Linked DNA regions of Homo sapiens: region 2 is linked to region 1. The links come from fine-mapping of genetic effects on gene expression. A gene starts in region 1. The other region holds a variant in brackets. All regions are shown on one strand. Distances are from middle to middle.

The links. PIP is the estimated chance that this variant, and not a neighbour inherited with it, causes the effect. A credible set is the group of variants that fine-mapping cannot tell apart.
Region 2: its variant is the best candidate, but not a certain one, in a credible set for the expression of QNG1 in blood mononuclear cells (TOPMed, PIP 0.65).

Annotation. Positions count from the first base shown.
Region 1 is chr9:83,954,197-83,958,586 of GRCh38, forward strand. QNG1 (Q-nucleotide N-glycosylase 1) reads right to left here and starts at 2,546. Exons shown (of 4, transcript NM_032307.5): 1 at 1,968-2,546; 2 at 1,185-1,444. The coding sequence starts at 2,304.
Region 2 is chr9:83,932,762-83,937,151 of GRCh38, forward strand. No RefSeq gene overlaps it. Among named protein-coding and RNA genes, the nearest start is that of KIF27, 14 kb to the left of the region's middle. The variant C/A (reference allele first, on the strand shown) is at 2,263.

The DNA.
Region 1 (4,390 bases):
AATACTTTTTATTAGGGAGAGGTTAGTATACATTCTGATCTTCAACCAATAAAGTAACCTTCTTGAAGTACTAAAAATACTTAATTTTCCATAAGGAGAACATTACATGGAGGGTTCCATGTTTTTTAGGTTTGAAACATTTTAAAAGGAAAAAAAAGGAAGTAAAGAATGAAATATTGATTAGAAAACATAAGAAATGAGATGAAACTCCATCTCTACTAAAAATACAAAAAAACTTAGCCAGGTGTGGTGGCATGCGCCTGTAGTCCCAGCTACTCAGGAGGCAAAGGCAGGAGAATCGCTTGAACCCGGGAGGCGGAGGTTGCAGTGAGCTGAGATAGTGCCACTGCACTCCAGCCTGGGAGTCAGAGCAAGACTCCATCTCAGGGAAAGAAAAAAAAAAGGCCCGGCACAGTGGCTCACGCCTGTAATCCCAGCACTTTGGGAGACCGAGGTGGGTGGATCACGAGGTCAGGAATTCAAGACCAGCCTGGCCAACATGGTGAAACCCCGTCTCTACTAAAAATACAAAAATTAGCCTAGCGCAGTGGCGGGCACCTGTAATCCCAGCTAGTCGGGAGACTGAGGCAGGTGAATCACCTGAACCCGGGAGGCGGAGTTTGCAGTGAGCCAAGATCGCGCCACTGCACTCTAGCCTGGGTGACAGAGTAAGAGTCCATCTCAAAAAAAAAAAAAAAAAAAAAAAAAGGAAAGAAATGACGCCAGCGTGGTGGTTCACGCCTGTAATCACAACACTTTGGGAGGCTGAGGCGACCAGATTACCTGAGGTCGGGAGTTTGAGACCAGCCTGGCCAACATAGTGAAACCCCGTCTCTACTAAAAATACATAAAATTAGCCGGGCTTGGTGGCGCATCCCTGTAATCCAAGCTACTCGGGAGGCTGAGGCAGGAGAATCGCTTGAACCCGGGAGGCAGAGGTTGCGGTGAGCCAAGATCACGCCACTGCACTCCAGCCTGCGCAACAAGAGCAAAACTCTGTCTCAAACAAACAAACAAAAGAAAACATAAGAAATGACTTTGAAACACTACTTGATTTTGTTAGTTTCTTCCACAAGGAATACATTTAAAAATTTAAGTTTTTATTCTTAAAATGAGTTCTGGAAGTAAAAGAGTTAACTCTGAGATGATTAAGACTTCTAAAATCCCCAACAGAAGCAACTCACCTCAAACAGAGTCACATCTCTGTAAGAAGGAAAACTTTCAACCACCAGGTGCATTAACTTCTGCGCACTATTCTCACTTTCTCGGACGCAGTTGAGAAAAGAGCCTCCAAACTTCTCCAGCAGAATTTTCCCGGTTTCATTGAGAATCCGATGCCTCTCTTCTACTAAAGGCATGGAAACGTCTGTGTCAGAACGAAGTATATTCCGAACCTGATCCAGGGTCACTGTCGCGTAGTACGAGGCACTAGTTATTGGTATCCCTTTAGTGAAAAAATAAAATTCAGAGGACCAATGTCATACTTCCATATGCATTAAACCCTTGCTTTTACAACATGGAATTAATATGAAACCAAATGAGTGGTATAGGAATGCACCAAAAGTGGAAGAATAAAAAATCTAAAGCAAAACTCATTTTCTACTTGTTCATCTGTACTTATTCACCCATTTCTAACTATTGCAATATTACATCAGATGTATTCTGAGTAAATTGCTTTATAACATCGGTCCTTTTGTTCTTCAGGTGTCATTCAAATGGCATTCTTTATAAAACTGACTTTTATGCTACTGTAACTTTTATGCTGCAATGATAAATATTAACATCATTTTCCACTAAAATATGCCCCTTTTCATACTTCTATTTTAAGCATAAGGACTTGCAACGAACTTCAGGTTCGCTTTCCATTATTCCATCTCCCAACCCGCTCCTTGGAACTCCCCTACACACACCCCAAGTAAATGGAAACCTCAAAGGCCGTTAGGTCCGATGGCAAGTATGGCACCAACCTTCGTCGAGGGCTCTGTTGACGGCGGCGCACAGGGACCAGTACCCACTGTATGTTTTCCCTCTGTACCTCACCACACACTTGTGCTCGTCCTGCTCCGACCAAAAGGAGAAGTTGAGCGTGTCTGTCACGAACACCCAGTTGACCGCGGCCTCGTCGGCCGCCCTGGGGTTCAGCTCATGAAGGGCTTTCCACCCCTCCACGCGCAGCTCTGGCCCCGCCGCCTTGGCCAGCAGCAGCTCTGCCACCCTCCGTACGCCTCCGCTGTCAATAAACACATCCCGACTGTTTTCTGCAATGAATTTAGAGGATTCCCTGGGATTTAGGAGCCCGTCCATTCTGCCCTTTGGGACCCGGCGGGCCAAACTCTTCCCGCCCTAGGCGGGTCAAGGTCCACTCTGCGCCTTGCGCTACTACGAACCGCGCGATCACAGGGCCTAAACAAGGTCCCGCCCTGCCAGGGAGTGGCACCGAGAACTTAGTGCAGCCAAGGTAAAGGTTCTCTCCCGCGGCGTTGCCCTGATTAGGAAACCAGAGAGACCCCGGGGCAGCTCGCTGGGCAGAGGCCGCAAGCACTTCCGGGAAAGCGGTCCCGTTCACGCCCTCTCGGGCGCGCTCTCAGGCTCCGCTTCCGGTTCCAAAGGTCTGGAAACTGCTAAGGGTCCGGCGTTCACCGGCCGTGAGTTGCCCACCCTGGGAGGTGCATGGCTTTGCCATGTTTTGCCTTTTCTCACCCCGCTTCGGACAGGTGGGACTCGAAGACGGCGACTCGCCGCCTTGCCCTGGGTCGCGATGCCCCCACCCCGCTCCCACCCCTCTCCTTTCCCGCAGCCTGAGCAAGACGCCTTCGGCAACGCCCCGCATCCGGGCTCCTTGGCCTCGAAGAGCATTATGGCCGTAGATCTGGGTGCTGAGGACTGAGCCACCCCCAGACTGCGACATGGGCGGCGGTGCCTCCTTCCCCAAGCCCCAGGGAGTGTTTTTTTGTTTGTTTTGTTTTTTGTTTTTGTTTAAGTGAATTCCTGGCCCATTTGGCCGAACGAACGTTAGGATTAGTTGGAAGGTTTGGAGAAATGGATGAGGAAACAAATGTGTTAAATTGTTAAATTAACCTTGTGTGCCTGGCAGTGTACTTAAGTACTAAATCTCACCTAGGCTGGGTCATGACGAAAGCGGCTATTGTGATCCCGCTTTTGCAAGTGAAGCTGAGTGGTTCATTGATTAACCCCCATCACAGCAATGGTTTGGGCTAGGATTTAAACCTTTGATAATTGAGCCCCCTAAATCGAGGGCACTTTATGAGCCAATCACCAGTGCCAACCATTCTGGTCAGTCAAATAGTGACTATATCAGTGGCCCTACTGAGAAGACATTAAAAATGAGGAAATAAGTGTCTCACAACTGCAAACTTACACAAGTACCTTATATTAGGAGAGAGGTGTAGAAGCCAATTTAGTGATGATCCAAATTTGACTGGTGATGAAGTTTTAGTATAAAGGTATGCATTTTTTTTCCTTTTGGAGACTTAAATCTCCATGGATAACGTTCACATCTTTGAAAATCACCTATTAAAAATAATCATCAGTACCCATCTCTAGTTACCGACAGGAAAATCTTGGTATTTTTGGAGGATTCGGAGCTTTTAAATTTGTTTGTTTGAGACAGAATCTCACCCTGTCGCCCAGGCTGGAGTGCAGTGGCATGATCTCAGCTCACTGCAACCTCCACCTCCCCGGTTCAAGTGATTCTCCCTGCCTCAGCTTCCCAAGTAGCTGGGATTATAGGTGTCAGCCACCACACCTGACTAATTTTTGTATTTTTAGTAGAGATGGGGTTTCCCTATGTGGGCCAGGCTGGTCTCAAACTCCTGACCTCAGGTAATCCACCCTCCTCGGCCTCCCAAATGGAGCTTTTTTTTTGAGACGGAGTCTCACTCTGTCATCCAGGCTGGAATGCAGTGGCACAGTCTCGGCTCACTGCAACCTCCGCCTCCTGGGTTCAAGCAATTCTCCTGGCTTAGCCTCCCGAGTAGCTGGGATTATAGGTGCCCGCCACCACGCCCGGCTAAGTTTTGTATTTTTAGTAGGGACAGGTTTTCACCATGTTGGCCAGGCTGATCTCGAACTCCTGACCTCAGGTGATCCGCCTGTCTTGGCCTCCCAAAATGCTGGGATTACAGGCATGAGCCACCACACCTGGCCCCAAATGGAGCTTTTAAATTTGACAGCTGTTACCCTAGAAAAGCAGATCTTCATCACTCCAGTTTCTTCATTTTGGTAAGAAAAAGGAACTTTAAGGACTCCACTATGATACGTTTTCCAGAAAAAGTCACTAGTACATTAATACAGTTGTTAAGGAAATGTAAGTCTGTTGGCTTGGGATTTTTCCTTTCTACCACAGCACCTAAGTCTTGGGAGACAAATT
Region 2 (4,390 bases), 21 kb before region 1:
TGGTATTGTTCTATAAAGAAGAGCTTTTCCTCTATCAGATTATCCTGAAATGCAGTTAGTACAGGAATAACAGAATAAATGCTTTTTTCCTTTTTATTTACCAATTTTCAGAATTACAAATTGGTCCCTACCAACCTTCAAAATCAAACAATACGGTTTCTTTTTTTGGAGCACGTGTGTGGTAGAAGGAGGGTAACTATGAACTCATAGTTTTTTTTATATTTTTTTACTTGCTTTCAAAATACTATTTTTGGTTCTCAAAGTATTTCTAGGCTTCTCTCTAAATACCATTGTGACCTATTTGTTTCTTCTCACTTTGACTCAGGCTTCGTCAAAGTTATTGAGCCTTGGCTGGGCACAATGGCTCATGCTTTGGGAGGCTGAGGCAGGAGGATTACTTGAGGTCAGGAGTTCGAGACCAGCCTGGGCAACCTAGTGAGACTCTATCTCTACAAAAAATAAAAATTAGCCAGGCATGGTGGTGCACGCCTGTAATCCCAGCTACTTGGGAGATTGAGGTGGGGGAATTGCTTGAGCCCAGGAGGTTGAGGCTGCAGTGAGCAGTGATCAAACCACTGCACTCCAGCTTAGGTGACAGAGTGAGACGCTGCCTCTAAAAAACAAAGCAACACTTTTTTTTTTTTTGAGATGGAGTCTCGCTTTGTCACCCAGTCTGGAGTGCAGTGGCGCAATCTCGGCTCACTGCAAGCTCTGCCTCCCAGGTTCACGCCATTCTCCTGCCTCAACCTCACAAGTAGCTGGGACTACAGGTGCCCGCCACCACGCCCAGCTAATTTTTTGTATTTTTAGTAGAGACAGGTTTCACCGTGTTAGCCAGGATGGTCTTGATCTCCTGACCTTGTGATCCTCCTGCCTCGGCCTCCCAAAGTGCTGGGATTACAGGCGTGAGCCACCACGCCCGGCCAAAGCAACATGTTTATGTTTTTTTAAAAAAGGAACAAAGCTGTTGAGCCTTAATAATTGCATTCTACTCCTGCAACCAAATACAGGTTAGTATTCTATATCAACTGACTCTTAGTCTATCTTGAGAGTGGCAAAATGGGAATGGCGAAGAAAGGGAGAGAATTCCTAGGTTTGTCCTGTCTCCAGACAGGAAGTTGGATTAGTGCTTTCTTTTCCTTTTCCTTTTTTTTTTTTCTTTTGAGACATAGTCTGGCTCTATTGCGCAGGCTGGAGTGCTGGAGTGCAATGATGCAATCTCAGCTTGCTGCAACCTCTGTCTCCCAGGTTCAAGTGATTCTCCTGATCTCAGCCAAGATCGTACCATTGCACTCCAGCTTGGGCAACAAGAGTGACATTCCATCTCAAAAAAAAAAGAAAGAAAAGAAAAGAAATATGAGGTATGGTCTTTGTGCATTTTAATCCCTAGACTGTAACTAGTTACATGATCATGGCTAAAGCCAGCTCTATCCCTGGGCTTATTTTGTTGATCACTACAATTGCTTTTTCACTATGCTAGTTTTAGTTTGATTTATTTCATTTAAAACTAAAACATCCTTAACCCAAAGGGATAAAAGAAAGGAAAAGATACACAGTGTATGGAAAAAAGAGAAATTTAGATGAATGGCACAATAATATATTTCTCCAAACTTCCAATTGTTTAATCAATAAATTGTATACCTGCAAGGAATTTTACAAATTACAGGCATGCATCACATAACAATGATTTGGTCACCCATGAACTGCATACACCATAGTATATGGTATCCCATGAGATTATCCCATCCCAGTGGGACAAGACCAGACACAGACCCTTCAATTCCTCATTCTTTTTTACAATTTTTTTTTTTTTTTCCGTAGAGACGGGGTCTTGCTATGTTGCCTAGGCTGGTCTTGAACACCTGGGCTCAAGTAATCCTCCTGTGTGGGCCTCTCAAAGTGGTGGGATTACAGATGTGCATCACCATGCTCAGCCCAATTCCTCATTCTTTGTCTCTCTATTAGAACTCTTTGTCCACCTAAAACCAGCATGACACAGAGATAAATATTTCCTGTTTGGCAACTGACTGAGACTTCTGATTGCAAAACAATCCCACATGTAAGTCCTCCACCTGTAACTTGTATACTCCTCTCTATAAAAGTCTAAGGCAAAACCACCCTGCCAAGAGACTCTGATCTTTGGATTTGGAGTGCTTTTCCTATTGTAATAGCCTGAATAGATCAATTCCCTTACTTGTTTAGGTTTTGTATTTGACTATAGCACCCACCAAAAAGCTGGAAATTTTAAACTAAAGCAAAAAA[C/A]AGCACACCTCGAGAAAGACGGGTCACAGAGTTGCAAGGAAAAGGAAGGTCTAGTTGCCTCAAAGCTGATCCCCTAGGTCATATACAGTCATTAAATCCGCATCTGGGGCAGACTGGGGTGCCAGCCTGACTAAGCCATTATCCATTCAGCTTCAGGGGAGGGGACACTGTGAGGAAGCTCAATACATGATTTCTGAATTGAATGAAACAAAATCTATTAATTTGCCTTGGTGCTAATTAGGGAGAAGTTTAAGGTTGATAAAGGAAAAAAAGCAGCCCCTGATAAAAAGCTGGCCTGGCACCCACAGCTATACCAGTTAGTCTTCTGTTGGACATAATCACTTTCCTAGCCTTCTTGGCAGTTAGTTGTGGTCACGTGACTAAATCCTAGTAAGATGAAACCAAAGTGGAATGTGGTGGCTACCAAAGCCTTTCTTGTCAACCCTTTGTTTTTTTCTTTCTTTCTTTCTTTTTTTTTTTTTTTAGAGACTGGATCAGAAAGGTTACTCAGAGACCATGATAAAGTAAGACTAAATAAGGCCACTTCAGAATTTTGCCTAACCACAGAAAAATACAAGGGCATCGTGCCGTACAAAGTACCCAAACATCCTATCTCCACTAAAATGAGTGACTGCTGACTTCTTTACCAATGACAGCTTTATCCTTACTCTTGTCTGCCCTCCCTATAGAAAAAATTTGAGGCAGTCAATGGTAGAGCAGCCAATAGTATAACTGATCCTGCTTTCTGAGAGTATCCAATCTCAACAGAACAGTTTCCTTAGACCCTGCCCCAAATAATCCTCCTACTGAGTCACCCCATGCTACAAGTAATAAATCTAACCTGTTTACTTTGGTTGGAAAGCATTGACAAGGTGCCTTGGCTAAACAACTTGAGTTCATAGAGTGAGGCAAATCATTAGGAGGCCTCTGAAGAAAAATAATTGAAATTTGTTTACAAAACAAAATATTTTATAACTGATGGCAAATCAAAGGCTACTAAAGGAAACTGAGTCACCAAAGAATTAGAAAAGACTTCTCTGAATGGAGGACTGTGCCAGGGAGTTTCAGGAGGCTGTGCACATTTTCATTACCTTTAAAAGGGTGTGCAGAATGAATCAACACAACTGAAAACACTTTCAGAACTTAATTCTACATTCCATTCTCTTCTGGAACGTCAGGAGCTAGCCCCATGTTAATTATGTTCCCCCAGACTACCCTGAAATCCAAGAGGGATGTTATCTCCACACAAATCCCCAAAAACCAAAAATGTTAGAACTAGAACACTACCATTTTGCAATCCCTAATGAAATAATAGATCTGAAAAATAATCATCCATGGCTGTTAAAGCCATTAGGCAAAATGTTATTTTAATGCTCTTAGTCTGTATCAGGTAAGAAAACTATAAAATCCACTTAATGGGTGGCAAAAACTTCTTGCTGTTTCCCAGTATCCACCCATACTTTTTTTTTTTCTCGAGACTGGGTCTCACTCTGTTGCCCAGGTTGAAGTGCAGTGGTGATCATTGCTCACTGCAGCCTCGACCTCCTGGGCTCAAGCGATCATCCCGCCTTTGGCTTCCCAAAGTGCTGGGATTATAGGAATGAGCCATTGTGCCCAGGCCCATCCATACTCTCTACACAGTTTAGCTGGTATCCAATGCCCATAATACATGCCACTTTCCTAGCCTTCTTGGCAGTTAGTTGTGGTCACGTGACTAAATTCTAGTAAGATGAAACCAAAATGGAATGTGGTGGCTACTAGAGCCTTTCTTGTCAACTCTTTTTGTTTCTTCCTTATTTTTTTTTAAGAGACTGGATCTCGCTACATTGCCCAGGCTGGACATGAACTCCTACGTTCAAGGGATCCTCCTACCTCAGTTCCTCCCCACCACACAGTGGCTGGGACCATAGGAGCGAGCCACTGCACCTGGCTTCAACCCTTTCTTTCTACTCTTCTTTATTGCTTCAATCCTGCTGGCTAGATTAGAATGCAGGCATCCAGGATTGATTCCAGGTTATGCTCAGTGGCAGAAGAGAAAAGGCAGCTGGGTCTGGGAAACCATGGCTCACAGCTGTAAACGCGGTGCTTTGGAAGGCCAGTGGCAGGAGGACTGCTTGAGCCTAGGAGT